2 linked regions of the Homo sapiens genome follow. The protein of the gene in region 2 purifies or fractionates together with the protein of the main gene of each other region. This does not show direct contact. Each region holds a gene or a part of one and is shown on either strand. Other genes may lie near its edges. The genes, in order: MCCC1 and PCCB.

Region 1 (11,022 bases), about 47 Mb from region 2:
CTGCCTCAGCCTCCCAAAGTGCTGGGGTTACGGGTGGGAGATACCGTGCCTGGCACTTCTGGTATCTTTTTTTTTTTTTTTCCTTTTTAAAAATTTTTATTTTATAAATAGGGACAGGATCTCACTATGTCACCTAGGCTGATCTCAAACTCCTGCCCTCAAGCAATCCTCCCGCCTTGGCCTCCCAAAGTGCTGAGATTACAGGTGTGAGCCACTGTGACCAGCCTGGTCTCTTAAGCTTCCTGTTTCATGCATTCTATTTAATTGTGGTCATTGCTTATTAGCATTTTTTGGAGACTTAGCTATGTATCATTTTCTGAAAGCTCTTACATACAGACTTGGATTATTTTCATAGAATACTGCCAAAAGGGTGTAGTGAACAGCAATCATGTTGGCTTTTCAATTATGTATTTATTTTTTCATGAAAACTTTTTTTAATTCCAAAAAATGCAACATACTTCAAATCAGTGCTTGGTGCTTTAGTGAAGAGCCATGCCAAATAACACAGTTGGCCTATATGAATTACAATCAAATATGTAATTCTTCTGTTCAATTCAGGTTGAAGAAGCCAGTGAAACTTTACCGCTTTTGATATTTGCATTCAGCATATAGGAGTCTAGAATAAGATACTTCCAGATTTGGGGGGTTGTATTTTTTAGGATGAAATGAGCATAAATGGATGGGTTAACCATTTGCAGAATGCTACTATATAAAGATGTTTACAAATTTTCATTATAAAGGCTTAACAATATGCCCAATGCACTTAAGATAATGACCATCTAGGCTCAGGATTGAAAAATAACTGAAGAGCTGTAACCCAATAAACTTGTGTGAACAAAATATTTGTTACTGGCTGGCATGGTGGCTCACGCCTGTAATCCCAGCACTTTGGGAGGCTGAGGTGAGTGGATCATAAGGTCAGGAGATCGAGACTATCCTGGCTAAAATGGTGAAACCCTGTCTCTACTAAAAATACAAAAACTTAGCCGGGCGTGGTGGTGGGTGCCTGTAGTCTCAGATACTCGGGAGGCTGAGGCATGAGAATGGCACGAACCCAGGAGGTGGAGCTTGCAGTGAGCCAAGATCGTGCCACTGCACTCCAGCCTGGGCAACAGAGCCAGAGTCTGTGTCAAAAAAAAAAAAAAAAAAATTTGTTACTGGGTGAGTGTCTTCATAGAGGTGAAGTAAAAGAGATTTTCCTCTGTCCAAGGAAGAGCGTTCTGTGATCAGCTGGTGAAAGTATTCTGCTCTACCTGGGAGGCATATTTTTATACCAGAACTGTCACAGTTCAATGACATGTCACATTCAAGGTTAGCCAGGATTCTGAGCTCTGACTCTGCCCATTGGGCCTCCCACACAAACTGTCTCACAGCAGAAGGGATACAGTGACCAGCTATCATAGAATTCTGGTCCTGCTGCTACACTGCTCCAGCCAAAAGTTTATAAACTGCCTTCTGGCTTAAGCGTCAGCCTCTTTTGACATCAGTTAAAGAAAATCAGTCACTAAGTCGAGCCAACTCAAATTAGTTTACAATCAAAAATCAATTTTCTACTGGAAAAGTGGTGGAAACAGCCTAAGAGTCAATGTCACAAAGAGTAGGTGTGAATCCTAGTTCTGCCACTCACTAGCCTTGACTAAACTACTTCACTTCTGTGCCTTACCATCCATGCTTTCATCTTCCATACGTGGGTATAACAGCGACTCCCCCTCATTTACGTTGTGAAGATAAAAACTTACATCAGATAAGGCACTTAATAAATTACAGCTCTGCAGTGACCCACTTCCACCTGAAACCCCTGAAACACTGCATGGGCAGTGGGTAATCGTCCCTCTCTGACATAGTTTTGAAAACTGTTTTTCTTATTTAAAAGTAATACATTCTCGCTGCAGAAAAATTGCAAAGCAAAAAAAAAAGTACAAAGAATTGGGGAAAAAGAGGTTTTTTTGGGCATATTTCTAACATTCTGGCATATTTCATTTCAGCTGTTTTGCTATGTTTATTTTATGACATATTTTTAGAATATTTACAAAATTTTTAAAAAGTGTAAAGAAGAAAAGCAAATACCATCAACTCTACTACCCAGAGCCAATCAATTCTATTATATTGGCATATTTCCCTCCAATGTTTAGCCTAGGCATTTAAAAAATGTAACTGACTGATCATGGCCAGGCTGGAATCCTCTTTTTCAGATTAATGTGATACATTTCTATGACTCACATTTCTCTTTTAATGAAACATTACTTACTGTTTTTACCATCTTTAAGAGTCATGTTTCTGGTATACGAGATATTCAGTCTTCTTCCACTGCTAGACGAAAATGGAGAGAATTGATCTAGAAAAAATTTAAAATTCAGTAACAAACTTATGAGTATCAAGCCTATGAAATTTACACCTTACAAAAGAAAACATAAAATGCAAGTGCTGGCCGGGCACAGTGGCTCATGCCTGTAATCCCAGCACTTTGGGAGGCCAAGGCGGGCGGATCATGAGGTCAGGAGATCGAGACCATCCTAGCTAACACGGTGAAACCCCGTCTCTACTAAAAATACAAAAAAATTAGCTGGGCATGGTGACGGGCGCCTCTAGTCCCAGCTACTCTGGAGGCTGAGGCAGGAGAATGGCGTGAATCCGGGAGGTGGAGCTTGCAGTGAGCCAAGATTGCGCCACTGCACCGGATCCAGCCTGGGCGACAGAGCAAGACTCCGTCTCAAAAAAAAAAAAAAACAAAAAAACACACGTCCTAAACTGGCAGCTCAGATGTGCTTTTTTTGTTCTTCTTGTTAAGTTTAAAGGGCTGGTTTTGTTTACATCTTATGAAATTTCATGTGAAAAATTCTAGCTTCTATTGAAGAATCTGAATATTTGCAATCTAAACTCTAATCCCATAGTGGCATAAACTGTACCACAGTCACCACCTTTTGATGGGGCAAATTCATTCCAGGTCACCAGTCTCTACTATTCACTATTTTTCTTTCACCTGGCCTCTTTTACTCTTTTATGTTTTTATGTTGTTGGCCCAGCCCTTATAGGCCTTTTTTTTTTTTCTTTTTTGAGACGAGTCTCGTTCTGTCGCCCAGGATGGAGTGCAGTGGCATGATCTTGGCTCACTGCAACCTCCACCTCCTGGGTTCAAGTGATTCTCCTGCCTCAGCCTCCAGAGTAGCTGGGATTACAGGTGGGTGCCACCACAGCTGGCTAACTTTTCTATTTTTAGTGGAGATGGGGTTTCACCATGTTGGCCAGGCTGGTCTCAAACTCCTGACCTTAAGTGATCCACCCGCCCTGGGCCTCTCAAAGTGTTGGGATTACAGGCATGAGCCACCGCGCCTGGCCCCTTATAGGCATTTGGGTGTATATCCTCTATTGGACAATATCCAGGAGCTTCAGCATAGCTAAGCTGATGCAATTTATTCTGAACCTCATATCTGTACCAATTATAAACTTTCAAAAGGAAGGTCACAGTAAGACAACGTTCCATTCTAAAAACGTTAAGGTCAGGCTCAGGAATACCACATGGGACGTATTTAGATGCATTTTCATTCAATGTAAAAGGATAAAATGAGGATAGAGCACAAATCTTCTAAAGATGCAGTTTTCGGGACTTAAAACATTTTACATTTTAAGCTTTCCATACAGCTATCTTGAATGAATCTAAATGAATTCAGAAATTAAAGATTCTAATGATAGGATCCTATAATAATACGGGTTCAGTATCACTTACCCAAAATGCTTGGGACCAGAAGTGTTTTGAATTTCAGATTTTTTTTTTTTTTTTTGGATTTTGGATTATTTGCATTATATTTAACTGGCTTAGCATCCCTGATCCAAGTATCTGGAATCTGAACTGTTCCAATGAGCATTTCCTTTGAGCATCATGTTAGTGCTGAAAAAGCTTCCGATTCTGGAGCATTTTGGATTTGGGGATTTGGGATGCTCAAACTGTATAGGGTAATATAATAATTACCAATAAAAGAGAAAAATAGATCAGATTTTTAAAAATTCTGTTTGCTCCGAAAGTCAGAGCTAGCCTGAAATGCAAAAAGTATGTGAGAGCTGAGATTTTGTATCAATTTAAAGGGCAGAACTTTTTTTTTTTAATACTTTAAGTTCTAGGGTACATGTGCACAAGGTGCAGGTTTGTTACATATGTATACATGTGTCATGTTGGTGTGCTGCACCTATTAACTCGTCATTTACATTAGGTATATCTCCTAATGCTATCCCTCCCCCCTCCCCCCACCCCACGACAGGCCCCGGTGTGTGATGTTCCCCACCCTGTGTCCAAGTGATCTCATTGTTCAATTCCCACCTATGAGTGAGAACATGCGGTGTTTGGTTTAAAGGCAGAACTTTCTAATGGAGAACTGACTGAAACTGTAAGCTACCTGATGAGGTAATGAACTTCCAGTTTCCCAAGGTGTTAGGAAGAAGTTGGGCAACAGCTTAGTGGGTGTGCTGGGGTAGGGATGCAATGCATATGTGTGGTAGCCAGGATGAACCCCACTATGGCCCTTCCTATGCTTGGATTCTATGACACTATGAAGTCTCTAGGTAGACATTCAATCACAGGATGGAAAAAGCGGAAGTAATTCGACAATAAGTCATGGGTAACCCTGGGGAATCTAAGTCTCCAGTCTTAGATTGTCTTGAGACTCTGGGACAAAGGGAGTTGCTGCAGGTACAGAGGACAAAACAAAGTAGGGCTATGAGGAGTGGCGAACAAAAGAAGTGATAAGAAATTAGTGTAGGATGTGGGGAGAACAAGTGTTTGACTGAAAAGAGATCCATTTCCTTTTTTTTTTTTTTTTTTTTTAGATGAACTCTCGCCCTGTTGTCCAGGCTGGAGTGCAGTGGCGCGATCTCGGTTCACTGCAACCTCCGCCTCCCGGGTTCAAGCGATTCTCTTGTCTCAGCCTCCCGAGTAGCTGGGACTACAGGTGCGTGCCACCACACCCAGCTTATTTTTTGTATTTTTAGTAGAGACAGGGTTTCACCATGTTAGCCAGGATGGTCTTGATCTCCTGACATCATGATCCGCCCACCCTGGCCTTCTAAAGTGCTGGGATCACAGGCACGTGCCACCACGCCCAGCTAATTTTTTGTATTTTTAGTAGAGATGGGGTTTCACCGTGTTAGCCAGGATGGTCTTGATCTCCTGACCTCATGATCCAGCCGCCCTGGCCTCCCAAAGTGCTGGGATTACAGACGTGAGCCACCGCGCCTGGCCAAAGAGATCCATTTCTACAATGTTAGGTGATTAGTTACACTCCAGTTAATGGGTTAAATAGTGTTTATGGGTGCATCCATGGTAAGTGAAGAGCTTTCCTTCATACTAAAAAACACATCTGAAAAGAATGGTGTCAGTCACTGAGAGGAGAAAAGAGAGGTCAGTGTGCCATACAGAAAGAAAAGCATGTTCAATGATGATTTGCAAAACTTGACAAGCAGAGGAAAGAGAAAAGCCTTCCATACCATGTGCCTGAAGAGTGAAAGTGTCGGTCATGGCTTTCTCCTTGAGGATGAGACCCAGGGCTGCCTGGCATAAAGACTCTTTGGCTGCAGCCTTCCGACTGAGCAACAACTGTTTGTGGTGTTGAGGGATGAAATCAGTGTGCACGTTCCCAGCTTCAAACTCTGGGTGGCCAGACAGGTTGAGTAAGAAGTCAATGTTGGTGTGCAGTCCAACAATCTAGGAAGAGAATAAACCCCCAGTTCCTGCTGAGTGGGGAAAACAATATGTTCAGAAAACCATCTGCTCTTTTTATCTAAGTATTTTCTACTGTGAACAACTCTTAGGAAAAATAAAAAACCTACTAAGGTACCATGTGGCAACAGGACAATTCTCAGGAAAAAAAACACAAAAAAACCATCTCACTATCACTATGTCCATCCGCTATTACTATATCCATCTGGACTTGACACTAAAAATTACATTTTAATATGACAAAGAGGATGCTGGAAATACCGAGGCACTTACTTGACTCAGGTTAGGAACATAATAAATGTTAAGAAACATAAATGAAATTCATTTGCAAGGTATCGAAGACTTGCTGCTCAGAACACTTCCACAGAATAGGAAGACTGCAAACAGCAAGCTGGATTGCTATACTGGGGAGAGGATAGGATTAAATGCCCTCAAAAGAGCTTCTTTCCAACAATAAAATCCAAATTTTATATACCGATACAAAAATTTTAAAAGGTATAAAATTAACCCAAATACACCAATAAATGGGATCAAAAGTAAAACCAGCTATCTGAGCTTTGGGTTCATTCATTCACTCATCCATTCCTTCATTCATTTAACAGCCATTTCCTGAGCATCTCTTAAGTGCCAGGCTCTGATCCAGGCACTGGGGACATAGTGAGGAACAAAACATATGATGTCCCTGCCTTCACAGTCTCTGCTTACATTCTAGGGCAACAAGTAACAATATCTGTAAACAGGTATTGAATATAATGTTACATGCTATGAAGAAAATGAAGGCTGGCTAAGAGGATAAAGAATAACAAAAGGTCATACTTTAAATGGGGCAGCCTGGGAAAGGGCTCAGAGCAGGAGAGCAGGGTAGTCAGGAGGGAGCCCTGCAATCATGTGGGGGAAGAACATTCTGGAAGATTGGACAGGAATGCATGGCTCCATGCTGAGTGAGTCTCAGAAGCGGTGAGGCGGCCAGTGTGGTTGGAGCCACAGAGACCAGAGCTTTGATCAATTATTAACAATAACAAGTTGAATAACTGGGTTAATAAATCCTTCTATGAGCCAAATCAATGTGGTATGGGACTTTCTGCACCAAGGAAATTAATGTTCTACAGAAAAATAACAAACTCTATTAAAGGGATGAAACTGAACATAATTATTTTACTTTAGAGAAAAACTACTGGACTGCAGGCATACTGGGTAGCGAAAACAACATTCAGGAAAACATCTGCTTTTATTTCCTAAGTATTTTCTACTGTGGACAGCTCTTAGGAAAAATAAAAAACCTACGAAGGTACCATGTATAGCTGGCCTTATCTACAGAGTGAATAGGATTTCACCGAAGCATAGCACTGACACTAACAATTTTACTTCTGCAATCTTTCTTTTGTAACTGAAATGAAGAAGTCCTCAAACCCTGTTCTGGCCCACGCAAAATTCTCCCATGTGAAACTATTTTGTTTGGGCAATTGATGGAAATAGAAAATATGCTGACGAGACCAAGGCCCTGCCAAAGACAAAGGCTGACCTCTGGTGCTGACCAAACACATCAAGGTCACTGGCACGGTCTCAGATCACTCACATTGTACTGACGAAGGCTGTACCTCAGTTTTGTCAATGCCGCCTGGCGATCTGCTGCCCACACGACCAGCTTCGCAATCATGGGGTCATAATGCACGGAAACTTCGTCTCCTGAAATTGAAAACCACGGTAACCTCTTCAAGTCAAAACACGAAGGAATAAAATACAACGAGCAAGACATTTTGTTATGTACATTTCACGCTTAATCCTCATAAACCCCTGCATGATAAATAACAACACAAATTTATTCATGAGGACCCTGAGGTTCAGAGGGCTTTGAAAACTCACCAGGTGTAACGAGGTGGGCCACCCAACAGCACCAGGCCCTAACGTGGTGATTCAATGGCACACAAGCTGGCTTTCCCTGTCCTATCTTCTTCTGAATCTTCTTTTCCCTTCTCATTTTCAAAGTCAACACAATCTCCCTCCACCCTCTCACATTCCCCTCATTTCTGCCCTTAGCATTCCCCTCCCCTCCACTCTTTCAGTTTCCGTACTAGTCAAGCAAGTTTAATAATTCCTCTGTCCTGCAGGGTTGCTGGGAGGAGTGACAATAAAGTGACAAGTGCCATACCTGGCAAAACTGATAAACCAATGGCAGCTATCATCACTGGGATGGTTACAGTCCTAGAGAACAAGAATCTGAACCAGGGCACATTCCACTGGTTAGAAATGGTTCAAGTAGAAAGGATGTGGTGTGTTGAAAAGAACGTTGTTGCAGGGTCTTTCCAGGATTTTGGCAGGTCACTTGACCTCTTTGAACCCCAGAGTCCTCGTTGATAAGATTAGAGGTGCCTACAGGTGGCTCACGCCTGTACTCCCAAGACTTTGGGAGGCCGAGGTGGGCAGATCACAAAGTCAGGAGTTCAAGACCAGCCTGGCCAACATAGTGAAACCCTGTCTCTACTAAAAATACAAAAAATTAGCCGGGCGTGGTGGCGGGTGCCTGTAATTCCAGCTACTCAGGAGGCTGAGGAAGGAGAATCATTTGAACCTGGGAAGTGGAGGTTGCAGTGAGCCAAAATCGTGCCATTGCACTCCAGCCTGGGCAACAAGAGTGAAACTCCATCTCAGAAAAAAAAAAAAAAAAAAAAAAAAAAAAAGGAAGGAACCGGTGGGGCAAGCAGAGTTAAGATGCTTTGCTAAGTTAAAAAGTCTACTAACTACCAAATCTTGCTGTGGCTTATCCAGAGCTCTCAAAATGCTGCCAATTTATTTTTAAGAAGATCTAAATCCTCATTTTGGCTTTTAGGACACTAGGATTTGCCTTCAACCCATGTCTCCAGTCATATATTTTCTTACTATTCTTCAAACATACCTTTTTCTCTTTTCTTCACTCTTCATTATGCTGTTTAAATCTACCTATCTAAATCCATTCCAGACATCCTCTTAAAAACTTGTCCTGGCCAGGCACGGTGGCTCACCCCTGTAATCCCAGCACCTTGAAAGGCCAAGGTGGGCAGATCACTTGAGGCCAGGAGTTTGAGACCAGCCTAGCCAACATGGTGAAAACCTGTCTCTACTAAAAATACAAAAAAAAAAAAAAAAATTAGCTAGGCATGGTGGTATACACCTGTAATCCCAGCTACTCGGGAGGCTGAGGCCTGAGAACTGCTTAAGTCAGGGAGATAAAGGTTGTAGTGAGCTGAGATCACACCACTGTACTCCAGCCTGGGCACAGAGTGAGACCTTGTCTCAAAAACAAAAACAAACAAAAAAACAAACAAACAAAAAACTTGTCCTAATTATATCAGTCTAGTGTGACCTCTTACCCCTGAGAATTGCTATATCCCATCACTGTATAACTTATTCCAGCAATTGAAATTAAGATGACAGGAGACCGTGGAGGCTCAGAGCACTGACTCTGGAGCAAGACTGCCTGGGTCTGAATCTTGGCTCCAAGGATGACCTTGGACAAGTCACTTAACTCTTCTGTGCTCCAGTTTCCTCATCTAGAAAACAGGGATGATAATAATGCCTACTTACAGGGTACTTCTCATGGTGAAAGGAACACAAGTAGAAAAATCACCTAGAGCAGTGCCTGTAAGTAGGAAGTCCTAAATAATCACTAGTTATGACCACTGTTATTAATCATATGCTGAACTGTGATAGCTCTTCCACTGTTTCTTTACTTTAATTTTTTTATTGTTTAGCTTATACTAAGTTTATGTGTTAATTCTCCAACTTGACTTTATGTCCTTTGAAGGCAGTCTGCCTTGTGCATAGCAGATATCAGTCATCTTAAATCATTTTTGGAATGAGGCAAGGTCAAGAACAGTACACACAAAATATTTCCTGGTTAGGTTTGACCAAGTACTGCTGAATTTCAAAAAAAAGGAGTCCGTTGTTGAAAAATACTTGTTATTCTTTAAAAATAACAATTCCAGAGGCAAAAAGTAATGGTTACTGAGAAATCACTTAAATTCTTTATTTTAAAATATGCTAGACAGTTCTGTAAGACTCAGGGATAAGAATGTGTCCAAAAACAATAATGTACTAAAAACTTAAAAAGAGTGAGACTTTTCATTTTCTTTCACTTTACCTTGCCGTACTCCAGTTTCAATCCTGGTGGAAGGGTCTGCTCGAGGAGTAGAGAGGTGCACTAATGGGCCTGCCACAGGCATGAAGTTATTGCTAGGATCTTCTGCATATATTCTAGCTTCGAAGGCATGGCCCTGCAGAGTTATTTCTTCCTGGCTCAAAGGAATCTTCTCTCCTGCTGCAATCTGGCAATAGAATAGTGTTTCTTATGAAATCTACCGTATAGCGGCTACCAGACTTAGTAAATCAATGGTCTTGCTTTTTTTCTAGGTAAAATGTACATTTAGGTTTTGCAATGCAGCCAAATAAAAACTATTATTTTGTCTACTCATTTGAGTATTGGGCAAAACAAAAAATTAAAAAACAGATGCAGCTTGGCAACAGTCTATCATTTGGGGTATCGGAGTTTTTAAATGGCAAAAGCAGGCAAAGTGATGGCTAACTTACAAATATAAAAATCAGTGTTTGTTCAATATAATCAAAACCAAAACTTCTTACTAGCAACACACTCTCAGTTTTCATTTAAAACATTAGCACTTAATTCCCAAATCAATTTTTTTTAAAAAATAGTATATTATTAGTGTTTAGGACTAGATTCACAGCCAAGCAAAAAGTGTAGCTGACATTGTCATCCTACGCTGTAATCTTCACCAGTAAGTGGGTGATAAAGCAAAACAGAAAGGGGAAAATGATGGTTTTTCAATTTTGTTATGTTGATATGTACTGCATGATACCAGATTACAAACAGGGTGATCACTATTGTTTGTTGTTACTATAATTATTACTATTTTAGTTATTATGTACCAATACAACAAATCACTCTCTTCAATTAACTAGTATAAATTGGAAATGGCTATTGGAGGACACATTGCACTTTCTCTCTTTACTCTTAAGTTTTTTTCCAAGATGAGAAAATGACAACCTGAGAAAGCAATATAGATACAGGAAAATCTAGACTCTAAGTAACTTAGCATGACATTGAACTAAACCGGTAAGTATAAAACAGAAGCAAAAGTTTCATTTTTCTGAATCTGTAAATATGAAAGATCAGGATGCACAGCAGTTAAGAATGAAAGGAAACGGAACTAAGTTAAATACCTTTATGGCAGTATATTTTGAAAACACCTCAGGCTCTGCAGACAGATTGCCTAGGTTCAAATTTTGTCTCTATACTTACTTTGTCATCTAGACAAGTTTCT
Region 2 (11,022 bases):
CAGCACTCCATGGTTGGTACTTCTGCTCAAACTTAATCTCCAGTTCGGTAAAACTATTAATGTTTTAACTTAGTAAAATCAAGTCAACAGTGTAGGAGGAAAGGCTTTAAAGTGGTTTACAAACAAAAAGGACTAATTCATATTGATAACCACTCAGTTACTAATTGAGGTAGCTTAACCATGTATCTTCAGTTTAAAGACAAAATGAACTACAAAGAAGTCGTGAACTTTAGAAGGTTTATTGTTGATAGAGCTGTAGTGATTCTGAAACTTGTATTTATGGTAGCACTGAGCAAATGAGTGAAATATATTGAGAATAATGGGAGCCAGGGTTATTACTGCTGTGGTAAGAGAGACAATACAGAATGGGGGAAGGCAAAGAAGCACCCATGGTGTTGGATTAAAAGTTTCAGTATGAACTCATGATTTAAAAGTATGATAAATATGTATTCATATATACATGTGTCCCACATATATATACACACACTTATTTGCATAAATTTTCCTAGTTCTGTCTGCTGAAATGCCTCAAAGCAATGATATCCAGTATCAGTGTGAATACCTAGTGCCAATTTTAGCTTCTAAATGACATACCTACTAAAAGAAACTAAGAAACTACTATATACTACTACTACATACCTATTAAAGAAACTCCTTGGAGAAACTGCTGATTCCTGGGCTGGGCAAGGAAAATACAAGATAAGCCTAGAGCATTATCTTGTCAGAAAATAACGAAATACTAAAAAAATCAGTGGGATATATTAAAAGCACTTTGGGAGGCTGAGGCGGGCAGATCACGAAATCAAGAGATCGAGACCATCCTGGCCAATATGGTGAAACCCCGTCTCTACTAAAAATACAAAAATTAGCTGGGCATGGTGGCACACACCTGTAGTCCCAGCTACTCGGGAGGCTGAGGCAGGAGAATTGCTTGAACCTGGGAGGCAGAGGTTGCAGTGAGTCGAGATTGCGCCACCGCACTCCAGCCTGGCGACAGAGCGAGACTCCTTCTCAAAAAATAAATAAATAAAATAAAATAAATCAAGTCCAAAATGATACTAAGAAAACAAAAACAGGAGAAAAGAAAGCTCCCTTCCTTACCTAGAGTTCCAACTAATAAATATGAGAGAGTTAGAAACTCAACATTTTATAATCAATGCAGAATCATTGATTGAGGCAAAAATCATCAATGAATACTAAAATTATTGGGTGAAAGTTTATTTATTTAATTTTCTGAGACAGAATCTAGCTTTGTCACCCAGGCTGGAGCACAGTGGTGTGATCTCGGCTCACTGCAACCTCCGCCTCCCAGGTTCAAGCGATTCTCCTGCCTCAGCCTCCTGAGTAGCTGGGCATGTGCCTCCACATCCGGCTAATTTTTGTATTTTTAGTAGAGATGGGGTTTCACCATGTTGGCCAGGATGGTCTCAAACTCCTGACCTAAGGTGATCTGCCCACTTTGGCCTCCCAAAGTGCTGGGATTACAGGCATGAGCCACTGCGCCTGGCCCAGGTGAAAGTTTATTGACAGACAAGATTAAATAATACCCCACAAATTAGTTATCAGTTACAAAGAGAAAATGGTAACTACCATGGAAAAACCTTTGCAGCCACGACCTTAACCATGTGATCAGAATCAGTTACCAACAGGAGGAAAAACTGACATAATGTGCTTACTAATGTGACGCACTGAAAGGAATATGTGTTAGTCTTATCTGAATCTAAACCTCAGGAAACAGACATCCCAAACTGAAGGACACTCTACCAAATAACCAGCAAGTAAGCTCTCCTCAAAAATGTCAACGTCATGAACGACAGACTATGTAAGACAAAGGACCTTGTTCCTAGGAGATACAAGTTTCTAGGAACACAGGGTCACGAATCTGCAACTGACTTTCAAAGGGGTCAATTAAATAATTATATTGTATATGTTATACAATTATATAATTATATAATGTATAAATACATAATATAAATATATAAATATATATAATCATGTTAGATATAATTATACATTAATTATATTAATAATATAATTAGATATATCTTATATGCATATTATATATTATTAGATATATCTACGTATGGAAGAAATAAAGCAAATGGAGAAAATGTTACCAACTGGAGAATCTAGGTGAAGTGGATACAATACACTTCTTGCAACATTTCTATCGGCTTGAAAATTTTCGCAATTAAAAAGTTTTTTTTTAATTTTAAGAACACATTTCTGGAAATAACCTGAGTCAACATAGGGTGCTATGCCTTATTGAGCATCTGTACTGCTAAACACATATACCACAATTGCAAACATCACATTTAATCCTCAATTCATGGAGGAATTAGGAGATAGATAGGGCATATTACCCTATTTTTAAAATAAGGAAACTTAAGCCTAAGAAATACTTTGCCTTAAAAACTTACTATATATCTCACCTATGGATAAAAAAACTAACTCGAGAGGAAAAAGAACAATACCCAGAGGTGTGAAATAAAAATCAGCTCTAGATGATAACACTGTGTACTATTTTTCTTTCTAGTTGTATTGATTTTTCAGATTTCCACCTAAAAAAATCGAATTTATGCTCAAAAAATACAACTTAAAATGTTTAAAAAAGTAAATAATTTTACAGTAAGGCACAAAAGAGATCTTTCTAGAATTTAATAAACTTAGTTATTCTAAGTTATCCAACTATTTGGATTCCCAGGTTTCATGATTGCAAAAGGCAGGAATGGGATGTGAATGGGCAGACAGTAATTCAGTTCTTGGTTTCTTTTCCTTTGATTTGTTTACAATGGAATATTTGCATGTTTTCTCCAAGGACGTTGTACCTTCTTGCTGGCCAAGACATCCAGGTCACAGCAGATTCGGGCACGTGTGGAAGAAGGTTGGATGATGTCATCCACAAACCCTGGTGAAGCACAGAAAAGGGAGTGGATCATCTGCATCCCGAGATGATGCCACCCCTCAACCTTCTGCTCAGCCTGGGCACCATCCCTGGGGCCAGCAGTATAAGCAGTGCCCAACCTGATACAGAGATGGTAGGCCCTGTGAATTCCCCCTTGTATCCCAGGAGCTGGCCTGTTCTGACAGCTCCCCAACTTCTGGCCTAGGAGCACTTGGCAAGAAAAGGAAAATCGGACACCCTCCCTATACCCTGCTTGCTCCAATGCCTCCATCCTGCCACAATGAATTCAATAGGAAATAAAGAAAATACATCTAGGTTTTCAAAAATGGCTATAACAATTCATCCTTGTACACAAGTCCTGCAATGTGACTTTACCACTTCTCTCTTCAAGAGGTGGATTTGTATTCCTTCGCTTAACCTTGTTGAGTTTTCTTGGCCTATAAAATGTGGCAAAAATGACACTGTGCAACTTCCAAATCTAGGCCTCAGTTTCCCTTTGCCCCCTTGCTACTCTCGGGACACCATGTAAGGAAGCCTGGACTAGCCTCCTCAAGGGTGAGAGGCCACGTGGGGAGTGAGTCTAGCTAACAGCAACTACCAAGTAAGTGACGCCATTTTGGACTGTCAAGCCCCGGTCAAGCCACAGAATGACTATACCTGTGTGGGTGATCCCAGGCAAGACCAGCACAAGAACCACTCAGCTGGGCCCAGACCAAATTGTGGACCCCACAGAACCATAAGCAGTGGGGGAAACGGTGGTTAGTTTAAGCTGTTGAGTTATAGGGTGAATTTCTGCACAGCACTAGACAACTGGAACAACACCTAGAAATTTAATACACTTTGGCAATGTTGTTTTAATTGTGGTTACCAAAGCAGCCTGTCCCACAGTCCTTAGTCCAAGTGATGACTGCCCAGGGACAGTCCCAACCCTCACTAGTCAACAGATTAGACTGCAAAGGCAAAAAGGCAGTTATGTGACAATTTCTGTAGAGAAAGAATGAGCAAGTTGACCAAACAAACAAAGCTGCCCTCTTCACCACAGTCCCCTACCTCGCACTGCTGCAGGGAAAGGGTTGGCAAACTTCTCGATGTACTCTGCCTGAGCAGCTTCCACATTCTCATGCCCTTTGAAGATGATCTCCACAGCGCCCTGTGATTAGAGGAGTTCATGAACATCTTTGGTCGTCCCAACCTGGACAGATCTCCTTCAACTCATTATCACTGTGTGTGGGTGCAAATTTCTTGGTAAATCAGTGTACTGAGGGGAAGTGCCATCTCTAAAGGCCATAGCATAGAGGGAGGAACTGCCTGGGGCTGACCATCATGACACAAGGGGCTGCATGATGGGATGTGATGCTTCCCTGTGGCCCCAATAAGGGGCAGTCAGGCAAAAGCCAGTAGCTTCTCTCCCCAGAGCCCATTCTACCATCTCCATTTGCACTCATCATATTTCTTTGAGCCAAAGATGTTAGCCCTGTTTTCCATTATTAAATCCATGGTCTTGTATCAAGGGGAATTAAATGTGCTATTTCCCTTTTTCGGTACCCTAAGACCTGAGTATACAATTCGGTGGCCAGAGGCGACCAGACTGAACTGGAAATTAGAAGGATTGGCCTTCAAGTCAGAGCACCTATAAGTCAACTCTAGGGGACCTGGAAGTTATCTGATTCGACCACAATAGCTACTTCAAAGCAGGGAGGAGTGAGGAATAGGTCAAGCAATAGGAAGTACCTTGTCCAACGTCACTAGGGTCGGACCTACAGTTTAGCTTCTTATGAGCTTAAAAGAGTAGCTCTGGGGCCCTCCCTGGAAGCTGAGGTGGAGCTGGGAGAATGTCCAATACTTCTGAAGGTGACTTCAGTTGACTCAACCCTTTGCCCCCTTTACTTACAATCTCAAAACCACTCTGGACCCCTCTCACTTTCCTTTCACCTGCCGCACCCACCTTGGCATGAAGACACCAGCGTGGGCCTGAAGAAAGGGTATAGGACAGGAGGCAGAGCTATCTCTGGAGCCCCAAGAGGGAGACTTACCAAGGTCTAGGTCCCATTCACCTCAGTCCTGGCTCAACCTAGGGGCCCTGGCCTCTCTCCAACATTTCCCAGCTATGCCTTGAGCTCTCGCTGGTAGAGTCGAGTCCTTGGACCCAGAAAGGGAAAAGCAAGAGGCCCTCACCTTTGCTCCCATGACTGCAATCTCTGCGGTGGGCCAGGCATAGTTGGTATCACCACAAAGGTGCTTAGAGCTCATGACATCATAGGCACCTCCATAGGCCTAAAACAGATCCAAATGCTGAGTGTTAGAGCCTGAGACAGCCAGATCATGTCCCTGAAAGACCCCAGGAAACCAGGTAAAATTGGGACAAAGAACAAGAATAGCCCTACTGGGCTCCTGAAGGCCCACGGTCTGTAAGACCTTTCAAAGTTAATGCTCATTATCTTTTCTGGCTTTTTCCCACTACTGCCTTCAGTTCCCCTGTGTTAAAAAAGCACAGACATTTCTGCGGGGCTGGGAACAACATCCTCAAGAGATCTTTTTAAGGATGAGCAAGGTGTACTCCTTCCAGCCCTGGTAAAACTCTGCCAGACCTCCCACCACGGCTATGCTGTAGGAAAGTGAGCAGGGTCATGGCCTCCAACATGAGGTCCTCACCTTCCTGGTGATGACTGTGACTTTGGGTACAGTTGCCTCAGCAAATGCGTAGAGAAGCTTGGCACCATGCCGGATGATGCCCCCGTATTCCTGTGCTGTGCCTAGACATGAGGAAGAGTTACTAGATACCCACAAGTCCTCACATGGTTATCCTGCCACTCTCAGCTGTGAGGTCTTTCCCACCTCTGGAGAGGGCCATTCCTTACACAGCCCTATCTTCTGGACACCCAGAATACATGGAGAAGTCACAAGTCCTCGGGGAGTTCTGCAAGAAGATCTCCAAATAAAGTGGGCACCTTACTGGGAAAGGCAACTCTCCTAGCCCCCACTCTGTCAAAAACTTACCAGGTAGAAAGCCAGGGACATCAACAAAAGTGATGAGTGGAATATTGAATGCATCACAGAATCTGACAAAACGAGCCCCTTTCACAGATGAATTAATATCCAAGCATCCTAGAAAGAGAGAGATTATCCATACTGAGTATCCAGGCAATTCCCAGTTCTATCCACAATGGGGATTTGTCCTCAGCAGCCATCCAAAGCTGGTTTCTGTGGAGGCACCAACACTTCTTTGTTGCAGAATGGTAACAAGGACCCCTCAAACTCCAGGAAACAGGGAAGATGAAGAATCCACCTGTCTGTCACTGGCCAAAGAGGCCCAGAACTAGACTACTACAGACTCACTACAGACCAAAGGGCTGCCGCCAGCTGAGACACAGCCGGCCTTGCCGCAGGGAGCCATCAGTGGGAGGCAGCATTCAAGGGCTGGTCTTAGAGAGTCCTCAGAGCTTCCAATCAGATTCTGGCTCCACTGATGATGGCAACGTGCCCTTGAGAAATTACTTTGCCTTTTGACCTAAGGTTCCTTACCTGCAAAGTAGGGACGATACTGCCTCCTAGCATAGTTCCAAGGAGTAAAGGAAATGGAATCTATAAAGCAGCACAGAGTAGGAGCTCAATTACTAGTAAATCTCCCCTCCTAGAAGAGTTTCCAACTTAATTCTATGAGACCAGTATTACCCCAATACCAAAGCAAGACAAGGACCATCATCAGAAAAGAATACAGACCAAAAACATAAATGAAAAATTTTTACTTTTTAAGTAAGGCACATTATCAAGTCCAGCAATATATACAAAAACAGTAGGCCAGGCGCGGTGGCTCATGACCGTAATCCCAGCACTTTGGGAGGCCGAGGCGGGCAGATCACGAGGTCAAGAGATCGAGACCATCCTGGCTGACAAGGTGAAACCCTGTCTCTACTAAAAATACAAAAATTAGCCGGGTGTGGTGGCGGGTACCTGTAGTCCCAGCTACTTGGGAGGCTGAGGCAGGAGAATGGTGTGAACCCGGGAGGCGGAGCTTGCAGTGAGCTGAAATCATGCCACTGCACTCCAGCCCGGGTGACAGAGCAACACTCCATCTCAAAAAAACAGTAATACATCATGTCCAAGTGGGGTTTATCCCAAGAATTCAAGGTTGATTTCAGCATGTGAAAACTAATGAAATTATTAAATAAAGGAAAAAAACTATATGAACATCTCAATAGATGTAGAGAAAATACCTGAAAAAATTTAATATCCATTCATGAATAAAAACATGGCCCGGCACAGTGGCTCACACCTGTAATCCCAGCACTTTGGGAGGTCGGGCAGGCAGACCACTTGAGGTCAGGAGTTCAAGACCAGCCTGGCCAACATGGTGAAACCTCATCTCTACTAAAAAATACAAAAATTAGCCAGGCGTGGTTGCAGGCACCTGTACTCCCAGCTACTCAGAAGGCTTGAGGAAGGAGAATCACTTGAACCCAGGAGGCAGAGGTTGCAGTGAGCCAAGATTGCACCACCACTCTAGGCAACAGAGTGAGACTCCATCTCAAATAAAAAAAAAAGGAAAGGAAAGGAAATAAATAGGCAAGTCACAAGCCAGGCCCTAGAAATCAACAATAAAAAGACAATGTAGTCCCAGCTACTCAGGAGGCCAAAGTGGAGGACTGCTTAAGCCCAGGAGTTTGAGACCTGCCTGGGCAACATAGTGACACTCTGTCTCTAAAAGAACAAAAAAAAATGGCCAGATGTGGTGGCTCACACCTGTAATCCCATCATTTTGGGAGGCCAAGGTGGGCGGATCACCTGAGGTCAGGAGTTCAAGACCAGCCTGGCCAAAATGGCAAAACCCTGTCTCTACTAAAAATACAAAAATTAGCCGAGCGTGGTGCACACCTGTAATCCCATCTACCTCAGAGGCTGAGGCAGGAGAATTGCTTGAACCTGGGAGAAGGAGGTTGCAGTGAGCCAAGATCATGCCACTGCACTCCAGACTAGGTGACAGAGTGAGACTCTGTCTCAAAAAAATAAAAGAAAATGGTATGAAAGCTCTGTGCCTTTTTAATTACACTTGTCCCATTTCCTCCCTGGTTCTGGAGGAAGCAGAGCAGACCTCATTCACAAATTTCCGCATATGTCTGCTCTAACCTGTCTGTGGGCTGCCTGAAGGACTGACACAAGGAACACATCTCTGTTTCACCTAACTCAGAACTTATCCAGGCTGGAAATGTAGCAGGCATTTCTTTAAATCATGGTAAGGTAGAGGAACAACCTGCAGATGTCTGGGCAAAAGATTACTGTTGAAACCACCTAAGATATGGGAGAAAAAAAAAACAGAGAGTGTCTTTAGGAAATTAGTGCATTCAAAAGCACCCGTGAATAGGGAGAATTCAGAAAGACACATGTATGCCTAGGATGAGATACACGATCAGAAAAGATCTGAGAGGGGAAATAAGAAAAGAAGTTGAATGAAAATGAAAACACTATTACAAAATAAAAGACCAGAGAAAACCTTAAACTTTAACCTTGAGCTGATCTCAAACCTTAGTTCAAGTTTGGCTAAGCATCAAAGGAGAGCCCCAACACAGAGACAATTTCAAGACCAGGAGTTTTCTTGTTTGTTGTTTCTTGGTTTTAGTTCCTGGTGTTCAAGAAAATTTCTGTCAAATATACAAGTTAAGAAACAGGCTGGGCATGGTGGCTCACACCTGTAATCCTAACACTGTGGGAGGCTACTTTGGGAGAATCTCTTAAGGACAGGAGTTCAAGACCAGCCCAGGCAACAGAGCAAGACCCTGTCTCAAAAGAAAGAAAGAAACAATAAGAAGAAACAGGGACTTCAGTGACCACAAATGACAAAAAATATAGTCTCTGGAAAAGTCATTGCAAAAAGACACTAGGCAAACATATATGACATTAAATATCAAAAAAAAAAAAAACAAAGCTTGGGAAAAGAGGAAAATTTGACTGCCAGCGTTACCACATTATAATGTATAAATACCCCATTTTCAATTAAAAAAATCACAAGGTATAAAATGAAGAAACTATCCCTAAGTAAGCATAGACACTGAACTTACTAGAAAAAGACTATAAAACACTACTAGTGGGTTTTTTTTTTTTTTTTGAGATGTTTTGTTTTGTTTCTGAGATGGAGTTCTGCTTCTTGTCACCCAGGCTGGAGTGCAATGGCGCCATCTCAGCTCACTGCAAGCTCTGCCTCCCAGGTTCATGTGATTCTCCTGCCTCGGCCTCGTAAGTAGCTGGGACTACAGGCACCCTCTGCCACGTCCGGCTCATTTTTTGTATTTTTAGTAGGGACAGGGTTTCACCACATTGGCTAGGTTGGTCTCGAACTCTTGACCTCAGGTGATCTGCCCACCTTGGCCTCTCAAAGTGCTGGGATTACAGGCAGGAGCCACCATGCCCAGCCTAAACTAGTCTTAAATATATTCAAAGAGGTAAAGGAAAACATGGACAAAGAACTAAAGGAAATCAGGAAAATAATGAAAAATTCTGGAGCTGAAAAGTACAATAAATGAAATGAAAAATTCACTACAAGGATTCAATAGGAGATTTGAGCAGGCAGAAGAAAGATCAGAGAATATGAAGATAAAACAATTGAAATTACTCTGAGGAGAAAATAAAAAAATTAAATGAGCAGAACCTAAGGGACCTGTGGGACACCCACATGTGAACCAACATACACAGGATAAGAGCACCAGGAGAAGACTAAGAGAAAGTGGCAAGGAGATAATCTGATGAAATAATGTCCGAAAACTTCCCAAGTTTGATGCAAGATGTGAAACTAGAAATATAAGAAACTCAACTAACTCTAAGAAGAATACATTCAGAAACCCACACTGAGACATATTATAGTCAAATTACTGAAAGACAAAAGAGAATCTTAAAAGCAGCAAAAAAAAAAAAAAAAAACTCATCATTTACAAGAAATCCTCATTAAGATTATCCAGTGATTTCTCAGCAGAAACTCTGAAAGCCAGAGACAGCAGGATAACATATTTAAAATGCTAAAAGAATAAAAGTGTCAACCAAGAATTCTATATCTGGCAAACTGTCCTTCAAAAATGAGAGAAAATTTAAGAATTAAGACATTTTCAGATAAACAAAAGCTGAGGCCCTCAGTACCAACCAGCCTACTCCACAGAAAAATGCTAAAGGAAGCCCTTCAGGTTAAAAGAAAAGAACACTAGACGGTATCACAAAGCTACATTAGGAAATAAATATCTCAAGTAAAGATGACTACATGGGCAAATATAAAAACCAGGATTTGAGTATTTTGGTTTCTAACTTCACTTTTTATTTCCTACATAATTTAAAAAGCAAATAAAGCCCAGGTTTCAACTAGTGAATTCTACCATACATTTAAGGAAGATATTAATACCAGTTCTCTACAATCTTTTCCAGAAGACAGAAGCAGAAAGAATACTTTCTAACTCATTCTATGAGTCCAGCATCACTCTGATACCAAAACCAGACAAAGACATTGCAAGAAAACTATATCTCAATATTGCTCATAAACATATATGAAAAAATCCTCAACAAAATATTAGCAGATCAAATCCAACAATGCAGAAAAAGAATTACACATCAAAACCAGGTGGGATTTATCTCAGGTATGTGAGTTTAGTTCAACAGTCAAAAATCAATTAACGTAATCTATCATATCAACAGTCTAAAGAAGAAAAATCACATGATCATATGAATACAAAAAAAGCATGTAACAAAATCCAAAATACATTCATGACAAAAACTCTCAATAAACTAGGTATAGAGGGGAATTTCTTCAACTTTATAAAGAACATCTATGAAAAACCTACAACTAACATCACACTTACTTGTAAGAAACTAGAAGTTTTCCTGCTAAGACCAAATGTCCCCTCACCACTATCTTTCAATATTGTATTGGAAGTCCTGGCTAATGCAGGAAGACAAGAAAATAAAACGTATACACATTGAGAAGGAAGAAATCAAACTGTCTTTGTTCACAGATGACAAAATTGTCCATACAGAAAATCTGAAAGAAGTGACCAAAAAATAACTGCTGGAACTAATAATATAGCAAGGTTGCAGGATAAAAGGCTAATATACAAAAATCAATTACTTTCCTATATATTGGCAAT

The links.
Region 1: the proteins of PCCB (region 2) and MCCC1 purify together in Homo sapiens (affinity purification with mass spectrometry; 2 studies listed by BioGRID and IntAct, with this or other methods). This does not show direct contact.

The regions. Positions count from the first base shown.
Region 1 is NC_000003.12:183,031,743-183,042,764, forward strand, and holds part of MCCC1 (methylcrotonoyl-CoA carboxylase subunit alpha, mitochondrial isoform 1 precursor), read right to left. Parts: intron 10,009-11,022; coding exon 9,825-10,008; intron 7,394-9,824; coding exon 7,284-7,393; intron 5,693-7,283; coding exon 5,476-5,692; intron 2,336-5,475; coding exon 2,249-2,335; intron 2,243-2,248; exon of another isoform or gene 1-2,242.
Region 2 is NC_000003.12:136,321,791-136,332,812, reverse strand, and holds the end of PCCB (propionyl-CoA carboxylase beta chain, mitochondrial isoform 1 precursor), read right to left. Parts: intron 6,488-11,022; coding exon of another isoform or gene 6,414-6,487; exon of another isoform or gene 6,399-6,413; intron 6,011-6,398; coding exon 5,903-6,010; intron 5,659-5,902; coding exon 5,558-5,658; intron 5,180-5,557; coding exon 5,081-5,179; intron 4,056-5,080; coding exon 3,956-4,055; intron 2,909-3,955; coding exon 2,787-2,908; 3' UTR 2,644-2,786; downstream 1-2,643. UniProt on the Homo sapiens protein: This is one of the 2 subunits of the biotin-dependent propionyl-CoA carboxylase (PCC), a mitochondrial enzyme involved in the catabolism of odd chain fatty acids, branched-chain amino acids isoleucine, threonine, methionine, and valine and other metabolites.